7 linked regions of the Homo sapiens genome follow. The protein of the gene in region 2 interacts with the protein of the main gene of each other region in a pairwise test. Each region holds a gene or a part of one and is shown on either strand. Other genes may lie near its edges.

The links.
Region 1: the proteins of FAM221B (region 2) and KRT35 interact in binary tests that used the Homo sapiens proteins (3 or more experiments, as listed by UniProt).
Region 3: the proteins of FAM221B (region 2) and LZTS2 interact in binary tests that used the Homo sapiens proteins (3 or more experiments, as listed by UniProt).
Region 4: the proteins of FAM221B (region 2) and LMNA interact in binary tests that used the Homo sapiens proteins (3 or more experiments, as listed by UniProt).
Region 5: the proteins of FAM221B (region 2) and GSC2 interact in binary tests that used the Homo sapiens proteins (3 or more experiments, as listed by UniProt).
Region 6: the proteins of FAM221B (region 2) and SPRED1 interact in binary tests that used the Homo sapiens proteins (3 or more experiments, as listed by UniProt).
Region 7: the proteins of FAM221B (region 2) and KRTAP10-8 interact in binary tests that used the Homo sapiens proteins (3 or more experiments, as listed by UniProt).

Annotation. Positions count from the first base shown.
Region 1 is NC_000017.11:41,478,352-41,482,648, reverse strand, and holds the start of KRT35 (keratin, type I cuticular Ha5), read left to right. Parts: upstream 1-1,497; 5' UTR 1,498-1,551; coding exon 1,552-2,022; intron 2,023-2,867; coding exon 2,868-2,950; intron 2,951-3,145; coding exon 3,146-3,302; intron 3,303-3,653; coding exon 3,654-3,815; intron 3,816-4,162; coding exon 4,163-4,288; intron 4,289-4,297.
Region 2 is NC_000009.12:35,822,233-35,825,732, reverse strand, and holds part of FAM221B (protein FAM221B), read left to right. Parts: coding exon 1-169; coding exon of another isoform or gene 170-199; intron 200-359; coding exon 360-503; intron 504-3,500.
Region 3 is NC_000010.11:101,005,571-101,008,333, reverse strand, and holds the end of LZTS2 (leucine zipper putative tumor suppressor 2), read right to left. Parts: coding exon 2,619-2,763; intron 1,850-2,618; coding exon 1,166-1,849; 3' UTR 501-1,165; downstream 1-500. UniProt on the Homo sapiens protein: Negative regulator of katanin-mediated microtubule severing and release from the centrosome. Required for central spindle formation and the completion of cytokinesis.
Region 4 is NC_000001.11:156,131,711-156,135,210, reverse strand, and holds part of LMNA (lamin), read right to left. Parts: intron 809-3,500; coding exon 683-808; intron 407-682; coding exon 236-406; intron 25-235; coding exon 1-24.
Region 5 is NC_000022.11:19,147,493-19,151,469, forward strand, and holds the start of GSC2 (homeobox protein goosecoid-2), read right to left. Parts: upstream 2,801-3,977; 5' UTR 2,792-2,800; coding exon 2,533-2,791; intron 2,425-2,532; coding exon 2,171-2,424; intron 1,604-2,170; coding exon 1,499-1,603; 3' UTR 1-1,498. UniProt on the Homo sapiens protein: May have a role in development. May regulate its own transcription. May bind the bicoid consensus sequence TAATCC.
Region 6 is NC_000015.10:38,318,836-38,322,335, reverse strand, and holds part of SPRED1 (sprouty-related, EVH1 domain-containing protein 1), read right to left. Parts: intron 96-3,500; coding exon 1-95. UniProt on the Homo sapiens protein: Tyrosine kinase substrate that inhibits growth-factor-mediated activation of MAP kinase. Negatively regulates hematopoiesis of bone marrow.
Region 7 is NC_000021.9:44,610,736-44,613,454, reverse strand, and holds KRTAP10-8 (keratin-associated protein 10-8), read right to left. Parts: upstream 1,377-2,719; 5' UTR 1,355-1,376; coding exon 575-1,354; 3' UTR 501-574; downstream 1-500. UniProt on the Homo sapiens protein: In the hair cortex, hair keratin intermediate filaments are embedded in an interfilamentous matrix, consisting of hair keratin-associated proteins (KRTAP), which are essential for the formation of a rigid and resistant hair shaft through their extensive disulfide bond cross-linking with abundant cysteine residues of hair keratins.

The sequences.
Region 1 (4,297 bases), on a different chromosome or scaffold from region 2:
AAATCACTTAATTAATTAATTAATTCATAGACATCTAGAAGCCCTGCACTGTGCTTAACACTACAGAGATTTAAAAAAAAAGTACAAGGTCAATCCTTGCCCCCATGCTTACAGTCTCCCTGGGAAAATAGGGCTGAAACACAAGACAATCAGAAGACGTCAGTTAATTGGAGGCCAAGAAATCTACCAATAGTCACTGCCTTGGGCATTCAGAGCTGGGAGGGCACAGCAGGGCTGGAGCAGGGGCCAGACTTCGGGGGAAGGCCTGGCCAGGACTGGGCCCTTAGAGGCAGTGGGGTGGGCCTGTGGTTTGGAGCTGCAAGGCCTGGGCTTTAGCCTCCCTGGGAAGCCTGTGTGGACCTTGGGTAAGCCATTTTCTACTCTGACCATTGTCTCCTTCTGTAGGAGTCAGCACCTTTCTATCCACGACTGTGTTGGAGGGTGTGTGTGAGGCCTTAAAGAAGATAGCATGCCTTGAACAGTTGTACAGATGCTTTTTCAGCTGTGATCTGGGACAGGCTCCTGAAACAGTCCAAGCCTCCTCTATTTAATGGGCTATTGGTGATGCCAATCTCATGAGTTTGTGTGAGGACTGAATAAGAGAATGCATAGAGACAGATCAGCGTGGGGGCTGGTGGGTACTAAATGCTCAGTGAATGATGGTTGCTACCATCAGCCGGGTTATTGATAGGGCTGTGTGAAAAGAGCTCCAATTCAGGCAGCCAGAAGGAAGGGCTTCTCCATTTCTCAACCAGGGCTGGGGAAGACATGCCCTCCTAGATGTCATCATGGGCAGGTGTCCAATTAACTGATCTCTAGGCATTGTGGCTAGAACTTAGGCTCTACAACCTGCACAGACTTCCTGGCAAGGGAAAGAGTAGGGAAGTGTCCATCAGGGCTCTGCAGTATCTAGGGTGATAAGCTGTCCCATTTTACCGAGGACTGAGGTTTCCCTGGCATATGGAACTTTCGGAACTAAAGCCAGAAAATTCCTGGGGAAACCAAGAAAATTGGTCACCTTAGCCATATTTTCTGGGCCAATTCAAGAGCCTTCTGTGTCTCCCTGGCTGCAAGACCCCTGCCTTCCTGCACCAACCAAGTTTACCCTTCCATCTTCTGGGAGCACCCCAGAGACCTCCTCTACTCCCTCAGGCCAATAAAAGAAGTCAAAGTTGGAGAAAGTCAAGACAGTGGCTGAACTCCCATGCTTGCTTAATGCGGAGGCTGAGGTCTGGGCTCAAATGACAGGTCCCTTTGAAGAACTGACAGGGACTTGGTCTTCCCAGTGATGTGGGGTGGTGGAGATGAGTCTTGACATAGTAATGGGGCTCCTATTTTATGAGACTGGTAAATTTTCACAGGAAACTAAATAACAGGTTAATGAGGGGTTTTAATAGAAAGTGGTGTTAACTTTAATGAGGAGAAAACACTTTGTAAAGGCCAACCAATGCCCACTGGGGCAGAGATATAAATCTGGGGTAAGGAGCTGCTTCTCTGCTTTGGGGTGTCTGGCCTCAGAGACCTATCAATTGCATCTGAGTTGCAGGGGCCATGGCTTCCAAATGCCTCAAGGCCGGCTTCTCTTCTGGGTCTCTCAAGAGCCCAGGAGGGGCCAGTGGGGGCTCCACTCGTGTGTCCGCAATGTACTCCAGCAGCTCTTGCAAGCTTCCAAGTCTCTCCCCTGTGGCCAGAAGTTTCTCTGCCTGCTCAGTGGGTCTGGGCAGAAGCAGCTACAGGGCCACCAGCTGCCTCCCTGCTCTCTGCCTCCCTGCTGGAGGCTTCGCTACCAGCTACAGTGGGGGTGGGGGCTGGTTTGGGGAGGGCATCCTCACTGGCAATGAGAAGGAGACCATGCAATCCCTGAACGACCGCCTGGCCGGCTACCTGGAGAAGGTGCGTCAGCTGGAGCAGGAGAACGCCAGCCTGGAGAGCCGCATCCGTGAGTGGTGTGAGCAGCAGGTCCCCTACATGTGCCCTGACTACCAGTCCTACTTCCGGACCATCGAGGAGCTCCAGAAGAAGGTAAGAGGTTCAGAGTGGCTTTGGATTCCCAGGAACTTTGTGTCACCAGCATTCATTGGTAGTTCTGTTCCCATAGGGCATGTTGGAAGTCACCAAGCATGTTCATCTCTGTGGCCTCATTTGCTCCTCCCAATAACCTTAAGAGGGAGGTATCATTAGCCCATTATACAGTTGAGAACACTGAGATTCAGGCTGGGTAAGCGACCCAGATGGCAGTTACTGGAGCCAGAGCTTGAACATCAGGTCTATGAATGAACTCTGTGACCTTTGGTGGTATTGCCCAATCCTCTGAGTCTTCTGAGTTTTCATTTCCTCTTTTATTTAAAGTCAGGGGATTGGGTTTGATGTATTTAGTGCAGTGCAGTTCAGGCTTCCCATAAGTAACTCAGGGAAGAAAATGCCTGTCAGAGAAGTTTCTTTCTTGCCAAGGGCCCATATCCACTTCTCGCCTGGCCCAAAGTTATAGCTGGCTCCTGTGAGGGACCATTTATGACCAGAGAATCCCGGGGTATGTTGTTGGCAATGAAATGCCCTGGGCCCCCAGTAGGCCTGGGAGACAGGGAGATTGGAAGAAGCCTCATTTCATCATGCCAGGCCTTTCCTGTTGCATTTTCATGCAGCTATCTAACCTGAGTAACAGGTCACAGATACACTGCACTGGAAGAAACCCTGGACTTTCCATAGTTGATCCCTAGAGCCTGCCCATAACACTCCAATGCACATGGAGTAGCAGAGGTCTAGGATGGGTGACTTCCTCCTTCCAGAGTCAGCCCTTGTCAGCTTTAGGGAGCTCCAACAAGTGGAATGTCCTTTCTTGCAATGAAATAACTTCTTCATATCTCCAGACTCTATGCAGCAAGGCTGAGAATGCCAGGCTGGTGGTGGAGATTGACAATGCCAAATTGGCTGCAGATGACTTCAGGACCAAGTGAGTTGTCCTGCTTGTCATGTGGTTGGGGGCTGCTAGAACTGGACACAGGTGATGCCTGAGCTCAGGGTTTTGGCTGTACTCTGTCATTGGGGCATAAAAGCAGGACTCACAGCACCTGGACAGTCTGAGGGCAGGCCTGACTTAGATGCAAAAAGGAAATGCAGACTCAGGTGCCCTGTTCTATGCCTGCAGGTATGAGACGGAGGTGTCCCTGCGGCAGCTGGTGGAGTCAGACATCAACGGCCTGCGCAGGATCCTGGATGACCTGACCCTGTGCAAGTCTGACCTGGAGGCCCAGGTGGAGTCCCTGAAGGAGGAGCTGCTCTGCCTGAAGAAGAACCATGAGGAGGTGAGCATGGGGGAAAAGGTGAACACGGCACAGCAGGTGAGCATGGGGGAGGAGGTGAACATGGGGAGGAGGTGAGCATTGGGGATGAGGTGAGCATAGGGGGAGGTGAACATGAGGGAGCAGGTGTGCATAGGGAAGAGGAGGTGAGCATGGGGAGCAGGTGAGCATAGAGAGCAGGTGAGCATGCAGAGGAGGTGAGCATGGGGAGGAGGTGGGCATGGGGAGCAGATGAGCATGGGGAGGAGGTGAGCATTAGGAGGGGTGAGCATGGGGAGGAGGTGAACATGAGGAGGAGGTGAACCTTGGAGGCAGCCCTCTGGGAATTAGTACTCATCCTGGTCTGTGCTATAGGAAGTGAACTCACTGCGCTGCCAACTTGGTGACCGCCTCAATGTTGAGGTGGACGCTGCCCCACCTGTTGACCTGAACCGAGTTCTGGAGGAGATGAGGTGCCAGTATGAAACCCTGGTGGAGAATAACCGCCGGGATGCTGAAGACTGGTTGGACACCCAGGTAGGTACCTGGAAACAGTCAGTGCAACAGGGGTATGTGGTGGCTCACATGGAAGTGACCCTGGGGCTCTGAATCAAGAAATCTAACTTTGAGTCCCATCTCTGTTTTGACCTTGCTGACAAGGTCAAAACAGACCCACTTCAATTGACCTTGCTGACAAGGTCAAAACAGACCCACTTGGGCAGGTTGCTGTCCTCTGAGCAACAATGCCCTCCAGTATAAAATAAATGAGTGGGACTGGGGAATCGGGAATGTCTTTCTTGGCTCATGATTCTAACCGGCCTCTGTAGCTCTCTGAAGCCAAGTCCCTGGTGTGGCTGACCAGGTTCTGTGTGTGTATGTTTCAGAGTGAGGAGCTGAACCAGCAGGTGGTGTCCAGCTCAGAGCAGTTGCAGTCCTGCCAGGCAGAGATCATCGAGCTGAGACGCACGGTCAACGCCCTGGAGATTGAGCTGCAGGCTCAGCACAGCATGGTGAGCCCC
Region 2 (3,500 bases):
ACCCATCTCTCTGAATCTGAGAGCCTTCCAGAACACTGTCTTTCAGGCCCTTCATCCCAGGTCCAAGTGGACACAACCGAAAAGCAGGAGGAAGAAGCAGGAGAGGTTGAAAAGGGAGTAGATGCCAGTGACAGCACTGCTCACACAGCCCAACCTGGACACCAACTAGGCAAGAAGAAGAAGAAGAAAGGAGTTAGCTGTAATTGTACCTGTCCTCTCCCCTGTCCTGTTCTCACTACTATTCACTGTCCTTGACTTGCCCCAGGAGGAGGAGACTGGGTTACTCTTGGACATGGCCCCTTCTCTTAGTTTTAGGGCCTTCTCACTTCCCCCTGGTTACTCATCCTCTCCCATCCTAGGTAACACAGCCCGCCCAGTGTTCCCTGCTAGGCAGACAGAGCTGGTGGAAGTGGCTAAGGCAATGCATAGAGAGGAGTTTGGTGCTCAAGTGAACAATCTTTTCCAGTGGGAGAAGGATGCAGCCCTGAATGCCATCCAGACAGGTGAGCCCATGTGGCCTTTCAGAGGCCTGTGACAGGCCCATGGGCATCCTCTAATCCAAAAGATCTGGGAACCTGAACATTCAGCAGATAGCTTCCCCTTTTGGAAATGGCTATACCACCTGCCTGGAAAAGGAGCAGGCAAGTGGGCCAAGGAATACAAGGGTGGATGCAGACAAAAAGTGGGGAGATTCATATAAAGCCCAGGTAGAGACAGGTAGCTGAACTAAAATTATTAAACACAGAAGGGTCGGCTGGGCGCGGTGGCTCACGCCTGTAATCCCAGCACTTTGGGAGGCCGAGATGGGCGGATCACGAGGTCAGGAGATCGAGACTGTCCTGGGTAACACGATGAAACCCCGTCTCTACTGAAAATACAAAAAATTAGCCGGGCGTGGTGGCAGGTGCCTGTAGTCCCAGCTACTCGGGAGGCTGAGGCAGGAGAATGGCGTGAACCCGGGAGGTGGAGCTTGCAGTGAGCCGAGATTGCGCCACTGCACTCCAGCCTGGGCAACAGAGCGAGACTCCGTCTCAAAAAAAAAAAAAAACCAAAAAACAAAAAACAAAAAAAAACAGAAGGGTCATGGCCCACCCCAGATATAGGGCCCAGAGAGCCTACAGACCCTAAAGCAGAGATGGCCCAGGACCCTGGACAGTCCCCAGGAGACTTGCTGTTCTGACATGACAAAGACCTTAGTCCCTTTGGTGGAACTCCATTAAAAGGCTGTCACCCCTGCATGCCAGGCCCATGCTGGGTACCCAAAAGCTTTGAGTTCTGTTACCAAAGGGGAGACCTGTGTCCTCTGGCCCTGCTGTTTCCAAGCCTCAGCCTGTGATTAGTACTCTTGACAGTCCTGTTAGTGGCATGCTGCGTACAGATGAACTTGCAAAAACATGCCATCCTATGCATGAGCATGCCTACCTGTGTTATGGAAATTCATGTCTATAGGGATTACCTTCAGTAAGAGGGCCACCCTGACCTGCTATAAGGATTCTGGTCTTTCTAGACTGAATTCAATAGATGTTATGACATTTATTTTGGTCCTTCATACTTCCTTTCCCTTTATGATGGGAATAGAGCTACGATGACAGGCCTAAAACATAAAGACAAGCAGGTAATTCTAAATGCTTATCCCTCCTCCATGAAATTTACTTTCCCCTTTCCCATGCAGGGACCCTCCACCTCCCCACCCTTGCCCTCCCGCCCCACCACCAACTTTGTTTGCTTATGTTAACATATTCGGTTACTCTTATTTTCTTGCAAATTCTGGCTGGCAAGGTGGCTCACATCTGTAATCCCAAAACTTTGGGAGGCTGAGGCAGGAGGATCACTTAATTGCCCAGGAGTTAGACAGTGAGGACAAGACAGTGAGACCCTATCTCTACAAAAATAAAATAAAATAATCCAGACATAGTGGTGCACACCTGTGGCCCCAGCTACTTAGTAGGCTGAGGTGGGCAGATTACTTGAGCCCAGGAGGTCAAGGCTGCAGTGAGCCGTGATTGTGCCAGTGTATTCCAGCCTGGGTGACAGAATGTCTCAAAAAAAAAAATGCAGGATGTGTTCAGTCCTCTTATTCCCCTACTCAGAACCTCCTGTCTACTCCCTACTCCTCAAGCCCACTGTATTTCTTTTTCTTCTTCAAATTGAACTTCTTCATCTTCCTGTTTAAACAGGAAGTTTTATAAAGAAATTCATGTCATTCAACCCCGAACAATTATATTTGAGGTCCCCTCCTAATAGTGGGGATGTTGAGTCCTGGGTAGTCCATAACAGTATATGTGATGTGTACAGAAATATCAAGTGTAACCTTTGTTTTTATTCATTCGACAAACATTTATTGAGCACCAACTATGTGCCAGGCATTGAGCTAGCTATGGAAGTGGTAATGCTGATGGGGGTTCAAAGACAAAATACTTGGCACTCTAATGAGAGATACCAATAAGTACAAGGACAATTATAATTCACTCTAATAATTGCTATAATCAAGGTTATCCTAGACTGCTGCATGAGCAGAAAAAAAAGGGGCATCTTATCTGGAGTGCTTGAGGAATAGTAAGCCTTGGAAGGAATGACTTCTCAGCTGATATCTGTAAGATGAGTAAGAAGAGGTGGCCAAGTAAAGAGTGCTGTAAGATGAGACATGACAGGGCAAGGCACAGCAGGAATCTATAGCAATGCACTATGCCTGATGCATAGAGTGGTGGGGAGAAGAGCCCACTCTGCTCTAGAAGGGCAGAATTGTGCAGGAATTTCTGTGCCAAGTTAAAAGCTAGAATTATATCCTGAGGGCAACTGAGAGTCACTAGAAGGTTTTAAGTAGGACAATAACATGAACGAATTTCTGTTTCTGCAAGATCACTCTGGCAATAGGGTAGACTGGAGAAAGACAAGACTGGAGTTGTGAGGCTAAGAGAGGAGGTATGGAAAGGCAAGTGAATACATTGTGAGGCACTGGTCATAACCAGGAAAGAAGTAGATGGGCTTAGGTGGAGAGAAGTGGACAGGTTCAAGAAATGCTAACAGGCCGAGCGCAGCGGCTACCACCTGTAATCCCAGCACTTTGGGAGGCCAAGGGGTGGATCACCTGAGGCTAGGAGCTCGAGACCAGCCTGGACAACATGGTGAAACCCCGTCTCTATTAAAAATACAAAAAATTAGCCGGGTGTGGTGGCGGACACCTGTAATCCCAGCTACTTGGGAGGCTGAGGCAGGAGAATTGCTTGAACCCAGGAGGTGGAGGTTGCAGTGAGCCGAGGTTGCACCACTGCACTCCAGCCTAGGCAACAGAGCGAGACTCTGTCAAAAAAGAAAGAAAAGAAACAAGAAAAGTAGGGAAAAGAAAAGAAAAGCTAACAAAGTGAAACTGACCATTGGAACAGTGGATGTATAGGATAAGAGAGAGGGAAATGCCTGGAGTGCCACCAGTTTTTGGCATAAGTAAGTGGTAGGATAATGGTGCCATTAACTGAATGCCTAGAAAAGGGTAGATGCTTGGT
Region 3 (2,763 bases), on a different chromosome or scaffold from region 2:
ATCTTTCCACTTTCTTCCCTCCTCAGCTGTCATTAAGGCTCTGCCTTAGTGTCCAAGGACAAGGTGCTAGTGGGCAGCCTGTGTCACCTGCACTCACTGCTCCCCAACCTCCCAAGCCAGGATAGGGGGTGAGAAAGCCAAGGTCTGGAGCTTGGGATTGGTGGGCACTTTCTCACATGCTGTCCCTTATGAGTCGCCCAAGCCTCCAGGGACACAGACTCTCAGACAGGGCCCTGAAGGGGTCAATGCATCCATTCCTCAACCCCAAGCAGCATTCTGTGCAAGGAAACGGATGAAAGGCTTTTCTAGTCCCTGAAATCCTGAGAGATCATTTCACGTTGGGGTCCACTAAGACCTCAGACATTCTACTGGATTTGTCCTTCCTCCATCACCTTTTCTCCCCAAGAGAGCTCTATGAGGGGGAGGAGAATAGCCAGCAAATGGTGGGGGGGGGGGGGTCAAACAAGTTCCTGTACTCTTTATCCAGCACATTCACATTATTTTTAAACAAAAAAATTTTTTTTAATTTTTTCTTTGGGTTTGTACAAGAAATTTACAGTGTGAAAAATATACAAGTGAAAACGAGGCCATAAACCTGGGTGAAGGGAGAGGCTGCTTGGTCACAAACACAAATAAACAAGACATTTCTGAGTTCTTCCTTTGGTCTGACTTCAGCCCCCTCACTCCAGGAGAGAGGCTGCAGAGCTCAAACCTGGGAACCGAGCCCAGGCCCGGCCCTGTCCCCCAATGTGGGCAGGCACATCCGGAGCAGCTGGTGCCATCTGGCTTTCTCTGGCTTTGGGGTCGGGGGGAATGTGAAGAGGAGGGAGCCCCTTCTTCTTCCCTGCTCCCCTGGCTGGAGTGGGCTGGAAGCGCCTGTGAACAGGGTTGGCAGTGGCACTGGCAGCGGTGGGGAATGAAGTGGGTAGTAACAAGAGCCTCTGGGTAACAGTGAACACGGGGACCTTTGAGCGGTCTGATCTTGCTCCTCCAAGTCATAGGGCCACCCTGAGTTCTTGGCAGAAGCCCAGAGGCCTGGATCCTAGGAGACAAGTGGCTTTGGGGCCCTCAGCCTTTGGGGCCATCCGTGGACCCTGGGGCCTAAGTGGATCTGCAGCTGCTGCCCCTCTGGCAGAGCTCCCTACAGAGCTGGTTGCTGAGGGCCCTAGATCTCAGTAGCAGTGATCTCCTCCAGGCAGATGCAGGGGGCCTGCTCGGCCAGGCCCAGGTCAGCGAGCTCCCGGGCCTCCAGCTCCAGGCTGAGCTGCTGCAGCTCCTGCTCTAGCTGCCGGTTGCGCCGGTACATCTGGATGTAGTTGTGCTGCAGCTGCTTCTGGTAGCGGATCACCTGCTCCTTCTCTGCCTGCCAGGCCAGCCGCTCCCCCTCAAAGCTGTCCCGCTGCTCCTCACCCCGCCGCCGCTCCCGCTGCAGCTCCACCCGCAATCGCTCCACCTGGGCCCGCAAGCTGCCCCCAACCCCGGCTGCTGCCCGCTGCACTTTGGCCTCATCACTCTCTGCCAGGAGGAATGGGTCAGCGGTGGCAGGTGGCACAGGGGGCTCCCGGAGTCCGGCCGCCTCAGCATCCAACTGCCCAGCTTTCTCCCGCAGCTGCTCAGCTTCCTGGCGGTGTCGCTGCAGCTCCTGGGAACAGGCTTCCAGCTCCAGCTCCCGAGCTCGGGCGGCCTCCTGTAGACCCCGCGCACGGCCCTCACTGACCCGCAGCGTAGCACGGGCCTCCCGCAGCGCCACCCGCAGAGCCACCAGCTCGCTGCCCTTCTGCACCAGCTCTGCCTGAGACTCTTTCAGCTGCTGCTTCAGCAGGGAGATCTCGCCTGATTTCTGGCACACCTGGGGGTGGGAGGAAGTGGGGAAGGATGGTGAGACAGGTTCTCCTGGGGGGACAGGCCCTGCACATCATGCTGGGCATTTGGGAGAGAAGAGTCCATCTTTATCCCCATTTTACAGATGGAGACACTAAAGCAAGTCTAGTGACATGTCCAAGGTCATACAGTTAAGATGGGGCTTAAGTGGAAAGCAGACCTAGAACTTTTTGCTTCAAAGCTGGTGTCTTCAAAGCATCACAAGACACTGCAAGTACCACCAAGCCCTGGGGACTGGGGACTGGGGACTGGGTCCTGGCAAGTGCTGCAGGAGTGGGGACAATGGAGGGCAGTGCCCAGGTGCCTGCTGGAGAGGTACTACAGTGACCTAGTTAAGAGCTCAGATATTGGAGCCAGACTGCCTGGGTTCAGATTTGGGGCTTCAGCCTTTATGGGCCTCAGTTTACTCATCTCTAAAATGGGGAGACTAATGGTAGCCCCCTCAGTGTTGTTATAAGGATGAAATGATCTGTTCCATGTAACATGCTTAGAATAGTGCCTCCACACCACAAGCACCACATTCTTACTACTGGCTGGAAGCGTGGCTACGTGCCACTAGACAAGGCCAACAAGGAGACCCCCCTCCCAGAAAGGGACAGAGGGGAACCTCATCTCACGGAGGTGAGAAAGGGGAGGACCTCTGGGGGTGGCAGGCTGAGGGAGGGTGGGGCTGGGCCCCTTTTTCCAGGGTTTCTCCCTGTGTGACCCTGCTCCCTGCCCCTCCTGGTCTGGCCCACCTCCCACTTGGTCTCCTCAAGCCTCGGCCCGAGCTCCCGCTGCTCCCGCTCCAAGGTGGCGCAGCGCCGCTCCAGCTGTTCGCGCTCCTGCAGCAGCTGTGCGAAGTCGTCCTGCAATTGCCGCTTCTCCTGCTGCAGCTGGAAC
Region 4 (3,500 bases), on a different chromosome or scaffold from region 2:
AGCAGACTGCCTGGCATTGTCCAGCTGGAGGGGAGGACAAAGGGTTAGGACTGTGGTGACTGGGAGGGGTGGAGGCACAGGCCTGAGTTGGGCATCACTGCTACAGCCCCAGGTCCTGGGCCACCCTGAGCTCCCTGCCACCATCTGCCTGATCCCCAGAAGGCATAGCCCAGCGTGGGTAAGGGTAGGGCTGCCAAGGGCAGAGGCAGTGAGGGAACCAATCGAGAGCAAGCACCTTGGCAGAATAAGTCTTCTCCAGCTCCTTCTTATACTGCTCCACCTGGTCCTCATGCTGGGCCCGCAGTTCCTGCAGCGCATCCGCCAGCCGGCTCTCAAACTCACGCTGCTTCCCATTGTCAATCTCCACCAGTCGGGTCTCATGACGGCGCTTGGTCTCACGCAGCTCCTGGAAGGGTTGGAGGAAGGACACAGAAACCAAAATCAGAATTAGTTCCTGGGAGGCCAAGACCCAGGGGCGGGGCTCCCTGCCCAGCCCTACTCCATGAGCCACTACCAGCCCCACTTTAACCTGGGAGCTGAGTGCTGGCCACCCCCAACTCCCTGTCCACTAGGGCAAGGGACTCAGGAAGGCGAGCTCTGCACACAGCTGGTCCCCCCTAGCCCAGCCCAAGTCTGTCATCACCCAGCCCCAGCCCTCTGGCTTGCAAAGCACAGTCCCCACCTCACTGTAGATGTTCTTCTGGAAGTCCAGTTCCTCCTTCATGGTCTGCAGCCTGTTCTCAGCATCCACCCGCCGCAGCATCTCATCCTGAAGTTGCTTCTTGGCCTCACCTAGGGCTGCCTCAAGCTGTGAGGAAGCAGGCAGAGATGAGGAAAAGGGGTCACAGAACACAAGAACTGGAAGGAAGCTGAGAGGTGGGCTGCTGCCTGTGCACCCCTTCACACATGTGGAAACAGGTCCAGGGAAGGAGGGCCTTGGATGCCTGCAGGGGTCAGGACATCTACTCACTCACTCTTGGTAGGTACTGTGCTAAGAGAGAAAATATATATCTAATACAAAAAAGTAGCCAGGCATGATGGTGGCACACGCCTGTAGTCCCAGCTACTCAGGAGGCTGAGGCACAAGAATCGCTTGAATCCAGGAGGTGGAGGTTGCAGTGAGCCGAGATCGCACTACTGCACTCCAGCCTGGGTGACACAGCTAGACTCTGTCTCAAAAAGAAAAGATATATGCCCCCCAGCCACAGGACTCCCTTCTCTGGCACAACATAGCAACTGCTATAAAGGAGGTATGTGCAAAGTACTGAGGGGACATGAGAGAAGGAACCAAAGTATGCCTGGGGTACTTTTGGGGGGCTCTGGGAAGGCCTCCAAGAGGCTAAGACCCAAGGGACAGGCTAGCGGGGCCTACAGAGAGCTACTGTCATGATTTCAAGGGCAGAAACAAGCATGTACAGGCACAGAGGTATGAAGGCATGTGTGTTCTGGGGTCTTTGGAAAGATCAGTACTGCTGAAGCCTGAAGTACGGGGTGGGAAGGGATGGGAGAGGTGGCTGGGTCAGTAGGCAGGGGCTGGCTCATGAAGAGATGCCCTTATCTGCCATGAAAAGAACCTGAGGATGTTTGAGCAGGGGAGCACCACGCTTAGATTTTCTTTTTTTTATTTTTATTTTTTTTTTGAGATGGAGTCTCGCTCTGTCACCTAGGCTGGAGAGCAGTGGCGCGATCTCAGCTCACTGCAAGCTCTGCCTCCCAGGTTCATGCCATTCTCCTGCCTCAGTCTCCCGAGTAGCTGGGACTACAGACATGGGCCACCACACCCAGCTAATTTTTGTATCTTTAGTAGAGACAGGGTTTCACCATGTTGGCCAGGATAGTCTCGATCTCCTGACCTCGTGATCTGCCCACCTTGGCCTCCCAAAATGCTGGGATTACAGGCGTGAGCCACCACACCCAGCCGTATGCTTAGATTTTCATTTAAGAAAGCACAGGCTGGGCTAAGTGTGGTGGCTCATGCCTATAATCCCAGCACATTGGGAGGCTGAGGCAGGAAGATCTCTTGCAGCCAGGAGTTCAAGACCAGCCTCAACAACATAGAGAGAACACGTCTTGCCAGGCGTGGTGGCTCACGCCTGTAATCCCAGCACTTTGGGAGGCTGAGGCGGGCAGAACACCTAAGGTCAGGAGTTCAAGACCAGCCTGACCAACATGGTGAAACCCTGTCTCTACTAAAAATCCAAAAAGTAGCTGGGCATGGTGGTGGGCACCTGTAATCCCAGCTACTCGGGAGGCTGAGGCAGGAGAATTGCTTGAACCTGGGAGACAGAGGTTGCAGTGAGCTGAGATCGTGCCATTGCACTCCAGCCTGGGTGACAGAGTAAGACTCCATCTCAAAAAAAAAAAAAAAAAAAAGAGAGAGAGAGAGAGGAGAACATGGCTCTATTTATAAAGAAAAACAGGGCAAGGAAGCACAGGCTGATCAGTGCATCCAGGAAGGGCTGGGGGAAGGGTACAACTGGGAGGCTGGAGACCAGACCCAGGAGGAAGGTGGCCCAGCCTTGGTTCGGTGGTCAACCTGCTGGCTTCTCCAGGTCTTTCCCTGGTATACTATGATGGTAGGGCCTGGGAAGGGAAAGAACCCAGGATGGAAGCTTGGCCACTGACTCTAATCCTGGCCCCACTATGAACAGATGAGACTGTGAAATTAGGAATAAACTGCTTCTTTGATTCTTAGCTTTTATTTATTATTTATTTTTATTTTTATTTATTTATGTTTTTTTGAGATGGAGTCTCGCTCTGTTGCCTAGGCTGGAGTGCTGTGACCCGATCTTGGCTCACTGCAACCTCCACCTCCCGGGTTCAAGCGATTCTCCTGCCTCAGCCTCCCAAGTAGCTGGGATTACAGGTGGCTGCCACCATGCCTAGCTAATTTTTGTATTTGTAGTAGAGATGGGGTTTCACCATGTTGGCCAGGCTAGTCTCGAACTCCTAACCTCAGGTGATCTGCCCACCTCTGCCTCCCAAAGTGCTAGGATTACAGGCATGAGCCACCGTGCCTGGCTATTTTTTATTTTTTTTGAGATAGAGTTTTGCTCTTGTTGCCCAGGCTGGAGTGCAATGGTGCAATCTCAGTTCACCACAACCTCTGATCCTGGGTTCAAATGATTTTCCTGCCTCAGCCTCACAAGTAGTTGTTGGGACTACAGGTGTGTGCCACCACGCCTGGCTAATTTTGTATTTTTAGTAGAGACGGAGTTTAACCATGTTGGTCAGACTGGTCTCAAACTCCTGACCTCAAATGATCCACCCGCCTTGGCCTCCCAAAGTGCTGGGATTATAGGCGTGAGCCACTGCACCCAGCCCAATTCCTAGCTTTTAACATGATAAATTGGAGAAGAGTGTTTTGAAAGTAAAGGCCACTCTATATACACAAAGCATTATTAACACATGTCCCATATGTAATTAGCCATCCGCTTCTGATGGCCTCAATAAATGATCAACTCCAGTCCTCCTTTTCCCCAGAGAAATCACAAGGGCCT
Region 5 (3,977 bases), on a different chromosome or scaffold from region 2:
GATGGCCATTCAACCAAGGAACTCAAGGGGCCTGGAGCCTGTGAGATGCGAGTGTCCCCAGCTGCAAGGGAGCTGACTGGGACACGGGCATGTCCACAGGTAGTCTGTTCAGTCCCCAAGGGCAAGACCAGGGTTCAGGGAGAAGGGCTTTGTGTGCATGCTAGGGGTGGAGGCGGGGATGCTAGGGACACCCAGCAGTGTCAGGGCAGTTCTGACTGGGGACACCATGCTTGCTTGGTGTTATCCAAGCTGGCCAGCCTTGGGGTGTCTGGGGAGCTGCAGCCCTGGCTTCTGCAGTCCTGCTTTTAGAGATGGACTTCATCTCTTGCAGGTAGAATGGCCCCATTCCCTGCAGGGCCTGTAAGGAGACAGAACGAGGTGCTCAAGCCAGCTGGGGGTGGGGATGTGAGATGCTTTGGACCCACTGTAGGGCCTACTTGGGGAATCTAAGGCTTCTTTCCACTGTGCCTTTTGCCATGGGCCAGGATAAAGAAGGGGAGGGCAGGCATCTTCCCAGGCAGCAGGGGCGGGGTCTCCCCAGTCCAACCTCCTCTTGCCCTACCCTAGGATGGCACAGATTGCTGTGAGGGAGTCCGAGCCCACAGCATGAAAACCCCAGGAGGAAGCAGGGGACCCTCACCCATGGGCAGGTTCACAGTAGCCTAGAGGCCAGGGCTGGACCCCAGGGGTCCAAGGCCACCATCCGTGGAGCAGTCCCCTCTGCTGGGGAGCACCCTGGTGCAGAGACTGAGGATCGCTGAGCTGTGCTCCTCTCAAAGACAGCTGTACCCTAAATACCCCCTCGCTGGGAAGGAAGAAGAAGGGACAGCTCCTTGTTGGGTGTGGGAGTGGAGCCAAGGTGGACTTGAGACTCTGGGCGGCTTCTGTGGTATTTGAAGTTGCTAGTTTCTCAGTATCAGCGCGAGGCTCGAAGGTGAAGGGACTGTGGAGGGGCTCCTGGAATCGCTCCTGCGACCTTCTTATTCTACAGGTCCAGATACCAAGACCCAGCCCAGGGCCTGGGAAGCCTGCAACGCCAGGACTGCACAGACACGAACCCCATCCCCTCTCCCGCTGGGGGAGGACGAGCCAGGTCAAGTTAGGTCAATGTCCACATTGAGAAGAGGGTGGCCAGCATGTCCCAGGGTGCGGAGAGACGCTCCACTGCGTAGGATTCTGGGTCCCGTGTTGATACGGGGTGGTTCCCCTCCTGCGGTGGAGTTAGTGTCTCTCGGGGGGTAGGGAGCTGAGGAAACTGCTCTATGCCCCAGCCCACCCCCAAGGGACTCGCCACTCCCACTGCCGTGGAACACCAAGCACCGGGGGCCCGTCCCCAGCGCCACGGCAGCACGAGCTGCAGGAGGCAAGGGCTGTGGAGACGGGTGGAGGCGGCCGGTGTACTCTCCCAGCTCCTTTTCGGGTAGACCTGTCTTCTCTCAGCGCCAACTCCAAAGATCCCAAAAAGGGTGGCCGAGCCCAGGGGCAGCTCCTAGAGTCATCAGCAGCTCCCCTTCGGGGACTTCTTGACGCCGGGCAGGAGCCTCGCGGAAGCCGACGCGCGCTTCTGGTGTCGCCATTTGGCCCGGCGGTTCTTGAACCAGACCTGGGGATGGGGGGAATGCTCAGCCCTAGCCCCAGGTCCTGCGTCCCACCGGCTCCCGAGGGTCCCACAGGGACCGAGAGGGGAGCTTCGCAACAGGGATGTGGGCGGACGGCGCTGTAGAGCCGACACCCGGGCCGCGGCTGCGCGCCACCTGCCCTTATTCGCTGCGGACAGACTCGGTGGGTCTGGACGCGAGATGGGAACCCCCTTAGTACCCGCCCCAGCCTCCAGCTGGCGGCGACCAGGACGCCCCTTCTTGGGTTGCGGGCTCTTCTGAATTTCCCAAATTCTGGACGTGAACGCGGGCCTCTTTCGTCACCAGAGGAAAGTGTAAAACAAAAGAAAAGAAAAGTAGCCCTCCGGTTCCTTTCCCGCGGCACCTCCCTGCTCTCACCCGCTCCTCATACCCCCGGACGCCCAGCGCCGTCCAGGGACCTCCTCCCTCCGGCGCGCCAGGGCGGGGCTTGGGCCGAGGCCGTCTTTGCAAAGGGCGCCCGCCCGCCAGGACCCCAGTCCAGTGTAGCCGCGGCCCGCGCGCTCCGGGGAAAGGCTGGGCGGGGCACTCACCTCCACGCGCTCCTCGCGAAGGCGGATGCGGCCGGCCAGGCGCTCGCGCGTACTCACGTCAGGATACTGGTTCTGCACGAAAAGCGCCTCGAGCGCCTGCAGCTGCTCTTCGCTGAAGATGGTGCGGTGGCGCCTCGTGCGCCGCTGCGAACCCGGGCCGACCGCGCCCGGGAGCGCCCCGGAACCTCCGGCTGGCGCACCCAGAGACAAGGGCACCGCCGGTCCCAGCCTCAGCGGCCACGCCAGACGAGCGCCTGCGGAGCGAGGGCGCGGTGAGGCGCGGGGCTGGGGCCAAGCTCGGCACCCACTGCGCCGCGCCCCGGGCTCCGCCGGGCCCCGCGCCCCGCTCCGCGCCCACTCACCCAGCCCGGCGGCCGCCTCTGGGGGCCCGCAGGGCGCCGCGCGGGGGCCGCAGCAGCAGCAGCAGGCGCAGGGCGCAGCCTCGGGCGCCCCGGGCTCCTCTGGCTTCGCGGGGCTCTGGCGACCGGCGGGCTGCGGTGGGCAGGCGGCCCGGGCCGGGAGGCTCCGCTCGGGCAGGCTGGAGAGGATGTGCTCGATGGAGAAGGGGCAGGGCCGCCCGGCACCCCGGCGGCTCGCCGCGCCCCCAGCCGCTGCCGCCATGCCCGGCCCGGCCGGGGCGCCGCCGCCGCGGGAATATATACGTCGGGGAGGGAGCGCGCAGTAATCCCCGGGCCGGGCGTCCAGTCCACGCGGGTTAATCCCGCAGCGCCGGCCGCGAACGCGCTAATCCTCGACTGCGGCGGCCCTGCCTCCGCGCGCGGGGGCCGGGGGCGCTGCAGAGAGGGCCCCCTGTGCCCCCCACCCCGCCCCGCGTCCTCCTGCCCCACCCGCGCCCGCCGCTCAAGCTGGCAGGGCGACCTGCGGGGAAGGGGCGGAGGGCCGCCTCGCCGCCGCCCGCGGGGCCTGGCAGCCGCTCGGAGGGCGCCCCGACCCTGGCAGCTCCCCAGAGCGCGGCGGTGCCTCCCGGCCCAGCCTCTGGTGGCTCCCCCTCGTTCGGCTGGGCCTAATTCCTCGTCCCCTCTGGGGCCCTACTGCGGCGGCTCAGCACGCCTGCAGAAGCTCGGCCTAGCCGCCCACCCGAAACTCCTGGACCGCAGCCTCCATGGGGCCCAGCACCACCGGCAACCGCACGATCCCGCCGCGCTCGGGTCCCGAACCTGCCCGCCACCTCGGAGCCAGGGTCTCATGGCCCTGGAGGGCGTGAGAGCGCGGCAGGAAGCCTGGGCTGCCGGGTGCCCCCAGTTCTCCGTCTCCTCACCTGTGTCAAGGAGACCTCCCCGCCCCTTCCGAGGCCCCTCCTCGGTGCTTCAGAGCCGCCTGTCCTCCAGCTTTCCCACTGGTCCCAGAATCCCCGCGAAAACATCCAACACTGCACCTCGCCCTTCCCCGCACTGTCACTGCCCCCCAGAAGCTGTGGGCTCCCCCTCCTCGCTCTCCGCCCAGGCCAGTCCTCTGGCCACACCGTCCTCGGTCCCTTCTGCCACAGCGCAGGTGACCCGCACTTGGCTACATTGTTTCACCCTCAGTGAAGCGGCTCCTGGCAGCGGGACCGTCACTTCAGCTTAAGACCCTTTCCTCTTGACCTTTGAAAATACAGTATGGGACTCATAGCACAGAGAAACAGACGGCCTGGCTCATACTCCGTTGTCAATTTCTGGCCGTGTGACCTCCATAGGCGTCTTCAGCCTCTGGGCTTGGCTTTCCCAATCTGTAAAGTGTAGTGACTAGGTGTGAGACGGTTAGAACCTGGCCGCCTCCCCAGGGCAATGCGTATTCCTGCGCTCCT
Region 6 (3,500 bases), on a different chromosome or scaffold from region 2:
AGACCAAACTTCTTGTCATCAATCTTCCAGTGGTGAAATGTTGGAGTGACCTTATTATAAATGAGGTCTTTTTTAAGCATACATTCCAAAACCACCTGACAAAAGCCAAATACCAAAAATTAATATACATATATCAAATGCATCTAATGTAGCTCATAAATACAAACTGAGGTGATACAACGCTATTACTTTTTAATGAATAATTTTTAGTATTTTAAATAAAGTGGTCTACTTCACAAAGTCACTCAATAAAGAGATTAAGATGGAATAAAAAAATGCACATTATAAACAGGATGCTTATTATACTCCCATTTTAAGAATACACACATATATACACTCCCATTGCATACAAAATTTCTGGAGGAATATATCAGGAATTACTTCCAGGAAACAGGCAGGGGGTTGGTAATAATAGAAATTTAACTTTTTAAAGTCATTTTTGGCTGGGGGCAGTGGCTCACACCTGTAATCCCAGCACTTTGGGAGGCCGAGGCGGGCGGATCACTTGAAATCAGGAGTTTGAGACCAGCGTGGCCAACATGGTGAAACCCCATCTCTACTAAAAATATAAAAAATTAGCTGGGTGTGGAGGTACATGCCTGTAATCCCAGCTACTCAGGAGGCTGAGGCAGGAGAATCGTCTGAGCCCAGGAGGTGGAGGTTGCAGTGAGTTGAGATCACGTCACTGCACTCCAACCTGGGCAACACAGTGAGACTTTGTCTCAAAAACAAAACAAAACAAAATAAAGTCATTTTCCTAAACTTCTTAAAAGACGTATTTATATTTTGTGTAAGGATTTAATGGTCACAGCAGTAAAACAAATACACTTGGCCACTTTTTCAAAATATGCATTTAAGTGAGTTACCTAACTTTTGAAGCCTTAGTTTACTCATCTGTAAAACAGAAATTGCAGTACTAAAATATCCCAGAGCTTAGAGTGGAATGACCGAATGTGCATTCATGTTAAGAGCTTCATGCAATGCATGAAGCAATATACCCTTGGTTTTTAAATTTTTTATTTTGAAAGTATTTCAAATTTGTAGAAAAGTAACAAGAATAACACAGAAAATTCCTGTTTTCCCTTTATCCAGATTTATCACATTAATTTTTAACATTCTCTCCACATATATCCATGTATAAACATTTAATTTACTTTATTATGAACTATTTCAAAGGAGTTACATATATTATGTTCTACTGCTCTTTAATACACACTTGAGTATATTTCCTAAGTGCAATACTATTCTCTTATGTAATCACAGTATGGTGATCTCATTCAGGAAATTTAAAACCAACACAGAACTTTAATCTATAGACCATGTTCCATAGACCACGTTCCACTTTTGCCTACTATACTAATAACACCTTTTAGAGCATTTTAAAAATCCTTCCAGTATAGGATCCATTCCAGGACAGTTATAAGGTCTCTTCAGTCTTTCGTTCCTGGGCCTGTCTTTCATCATATTCACAGTATGCTTTTAATATATGTTAGTTGTCAAATAAAACAAAAGTGGATATATTAGTGATCTTTGCAATTAATCTAATAAAAAGACTAGAACTACACACCTTAATTATTTTAAGAATCCCCTATAAGAAAACAGGAGGAAAAGAATTAAAAATAATTCAAATGAAACCCATAGTAGCACATGACACATAATAAATGCTCAGCTGGTATTTGGTGAAAGGTTGTATTTTCATTACCTCCACTCTTTTCCAATCACCATTATCACTTGCACATCTCTTCCATGCACTGCTGATGATCCCCTCAGATATTACTAGTAGTAGTGAATTACTAATAGTAATTGCACTACTCTGCAGGTAGAGTAATAATTTTTCTTAAAAAAAAATAGCAACTTTACTGGACCACTCCCTAGTTTCAATGTCTTTTCAATGCTTTCAAGACTAAAATTCTTACTATGACCTACTAGGCCCTGCATGAGCTGGTCTTTGTCTGTTTGCCAAATCCTTAAACTACAGTGGCAGACAAACATTAGGTACTCAACCAATACTTCTCCTCAGAAATCTTTTAGGCTTTATGCACTTCCCAAGGAACTCATTCACAGATCATGGACTAGGAATCTCTAATTTATACTTTTGGAGGGGAGGTCTGCTAGAGTCTGCTTATACTGGCTCCCAAGAGCCAGATATTAAATTTTCAAGAATTTTGGAAGCCATTGTTAAAAGCTAGAATATATAACTCTACAATGAAATAAATTGCATTAAAAATAAAATAATAAATACACAAAACTCATCAGTTCCTAATTATTTTACTATATTTTTACAATTACCTAGGTTCTTGAGGTAGTTTATGTCTGTCATATCTGTACGGTGGAAATACTATATAATGCCACACTGCTGCTCATTTCTTCCCAATGCTATATGCAATGATGGCATGTTGAGTAAAAGCAGCCATGGTAGAGGTATGTAAATGCTATAAATCATTGACTTGTGTCCCCTCTTGAAAGCTGATTGTTAAACCTTTTATCAGCATACCACTGAATATAATAATTCTTGGTAGTAAGTTTTATTAATTCAGAAATAACCAAAAATGTGACTAAGGTTCAGTCCTGCCCGTTTATAGGCAATGCAGTGAAATTCTCTCAAGACTTTTGCTTCCTATACTTTGATGACTCTATGTGTATTAGAAAAGAATTAACCGCCAGGCACAGTGGCTCACGCCTGTAATCCCAGCCCTGTGGGAGGCTGAGGCGGGTGGATCAACTGAGGTCAGGAGTTCAAGACCATCCTGACCAACATAGTGAAACCCGTCTCCACTAAAATACAAAAATTAGCCGGGCGTGGTGGTGGGAACCTGTAATCTCAGCTACTCGAGAGGCTGAGCCAGGAGAATCACTTCAACCTGGGAGGCAGAGGTTGCAGTGAGCCGAGATCATGCCATTGCACTCCAGCCTAGGCAGCAAGAGTAAAACTCTGTCTCAAAAAAAGAAAATAATTTACATGTATCCAGAGCTTTTTTGAGTCGGCACTTTGCTAAAGCATTTTACACAGATTTACTATTAAATATTTGTTACAACCATTTTGCAACAACAACAACAATTCACGATTAAGTTCTAGAATTCAAGGGGAAGTAAATGGTAGTGTCATAAATTACTGCAACATTTATACTATATTCATAAACAGTGGGAAAAGCAGTATTTTGTAAAACAATGCTAAATTGGAATTGTTAAAAAGGGGAAGACATAAAAACAGTTTGATTCTAGTTTTTTAATATATAATAATAACACCAAATTAATTTTTAATACATGAAAATATTACTGAATTAGCCCCCTCTTCTATTTTACAAAATTAATATTTTCAACTATTAACTCTCAAATAAAATTTCAATGTGATCTACCCTAATCTTGTCTTCAAATGGCATCTATTGTTTAGAGCCTCCCAACACTCACAGAAAAAGTAGTTTTAAAAATAAGTTCAAGCACTATTCACAATAGCAAAGACATGGAATCAACCTAGGTGTCCATCAATGGTGGATTAAATA
Region 7 (2,719 bases), on a different chromosome or scaffold from region 2:
AGAGCCCCACAGCCCAGGGCACTACAGCGAATGACCAGGCTCAGGAAGACCCGGTCACAGGGGCTGAGCCGGGACTGAGCCTTCCTGGGAGTGACCGTGAGTCCCACCTGGTGACCCCCTGGAGGAGTTAGGCCACTGTCCCTTGTGACTTCTAGGTTAAGTAACTCACTCCTAGAAACGGTCATGGCTGGAGGAGACCAATGTCAGCTCAAAACCGTGTGTCCTCCCAGGAGAACAACAGGAAAAGAGAATCAGGTGACCAAGGAGAGTTTATTGGGGAGTAGGAGGAGGTGCTGAGAGGTTCAAGTCGAGGCCAAGTGACCCAGAGCAGAGAAGCTGGGAGGGAGGACAGGGGACCCAGCAGGCAGGTGGGCACCTGCTGGAAGGCAAGAGCTGGGGAGCAGTGAGGATGGAGGCTCCTGGGAGTAAGGAGGGAGAGGTCACCTCAGCACAGGGGAGACATGGAGACCCCATCCCAGGTAGGGGCAGCCACTTAACCCAGGACAGGACCGGAGCCGGCTGGCCCTGGGGGACGTGCCCATCAGCAGCTGGACTCCTGGCCTGAGCAGAGGCCTCAGCAGGCCAGGCGGGAGCACGCGGGGCGGCAGAGGAAGGACAGGCAGGAGGCCGGGTGGCAGCAGCTGGGCTGGCAGGAGGAGGCAGGGACACAACAGGAGGGGACAGGCACACAGCAGGCAGGCCGGCACACAGGGCGGCAGAGGAGGGACACGGAGGAGGAGGGTCTGCAGCAGGAGGTGGTGCAGCAAGCCGGCTGGCAGCTAGACTTCTGGCAGCACAGAGAGGAAGCCCCAGAGCAGACAGGCACACAGCAGATGGGCTTGCAGCAGATGGGCACACAGCAGGCCTGTTGGCATGGGGAGAAGGTGCAGCAAGCTGACTGGCAGCTAGACTGCTGGCAGCATGGGGAGGAAGCTCCAGAGCAGATGGACACGCAGCACACGGGCTTGCAGCAGTTGGACTTGCAGCACACAGGCACACAGCAGGCCTGTTGGCAGGGGGAGGAGGTGCAGCAAGCCGGCTGGCAGCTAGACTGCTGGCAGCATGAAGGTGTGCAGGAGTCGGTGCAGCCTGATTGGCAGGGGCTGGGCTCACAGCTCACTGGGGCACAGACCAGGGCCAGGCAGGGGGCTGGGGCACAGCAGCTAGGGGTACAGCAGCTGGAGGCACAGGAGCGGGGCTCGCAGCAGCTTTCCTGGCAATTGTCCACCTGCCAGGAGGAGCCAGTGCAGGTGCTGGGGGAGGAGACTCGGCTGACATGGCCCACGTCACTGGAGCAGACAGACATGGTGGATGCAGCAATCACATACGTCCTGGTGCAGCAGGCGTCAGCCATGGTGGGTGCTGGACTGGGTGGTGTGAGTGCTGGTGTGAGGTGTGTGGGTTTGTGTGCCCTGGCTGCTGAGGTTTTATACCCTCCCTGGGTATTTTCCTCACAGGAGTCTCACAAGCCTTCCCTTTCCTTGTTGTGGCTGAGACTTTGCCTCCAGGCAACCCTAATTAGTTTACTTGCTGTGGGATGTTACTGTGGTCCCAGGACTGCTGCATGTGGTTGGGTGATGCTGACCACTTGCAGGTGTCTGTGCCCTGCAACCACACACAGTGATGCTGCGTGTCTGCTGGTGGAGCTGGGAGTTGAACAGATCGTGAGTTGGCAAGTCTGGAAAACCCAGCCCCACTTTCCTCCTGTCTTTGCCTGTATGTCTTTGCTATTGGGGTATTTGGTACCAGGGGTGGGGTGTTTTTTTACCAGCAGATGTTCTCCACCTGTCCCAGAGTTCTGCTCCATTGAACAATGGGTGTCTCGGCTAGGAATGCCCCCTGGCTCCCCACCCTGCCACCCCTACCTGTTCCATCTGCAAACTATGGTGCGATGCCCCTGTATTAGTCCATTTTCACACTGCTGATAGAGACATACCCAAGACTGAGAGGAAAAAGGGCTTTAATTGGACTTACAGTTCCACATGGCTGGGGAGGCCGCAGAATCTTGGTGGGAGCTGACAGGCACTTCTTACATGGTGACAGCAAGAGAAAATGAGGAAGAAGCAAAAGCAGAAGCCCCTGATAAACCCATCAGATCTTGTGAGACTTATTCACTACCACTAGAATAGCACAGGAAAAGACCGGCCCCCATGATTCAATTATCTCCCCCTGGGTTCCTCCCACAACATGTAGGAATGCTGGGAGATGAAATTCAAGTCGAGATTTGGGTAAGGACACAGCCAAACCATATCATTCTGTCCCTGGCCCTTCCAAATCTTATGTCTTCACATTTCAAAACCAGTCATGCCTTCCCAACAGTCCCCCAAAGTCTTAACTCATTTCAGCATTAACCCAAAAGTCCACAGTCCAAAGTTTCATCTGAGACAAGACAAGTCTCTTCCACCTATGAGCCTGTAAAATCAAAAACAAGCTAGTTTCTTCCTAGATAAAATAGGGGTACAGGTATTGGGTAAATACAGCCATTCCAAATGGCAGAAATTGGCCAAAACAAAGGGATTTTACAGGGCCCATGCAAGTCCAAAATCCAGCAGGGGAGTCAAATTTTAAAGCTCCAAAATGATCTCGTTTGACTCCAGGTCTCACATCCAGGTCATAATGATGCAAGAGGTGGGTTCCCATGGTCTCGGACAGCTCCACCCCTGTGGCTTTGCAGGGTACAGCCTCCCTCCTGGCTGCTTTCATGGGCTGGTGTTGAGTG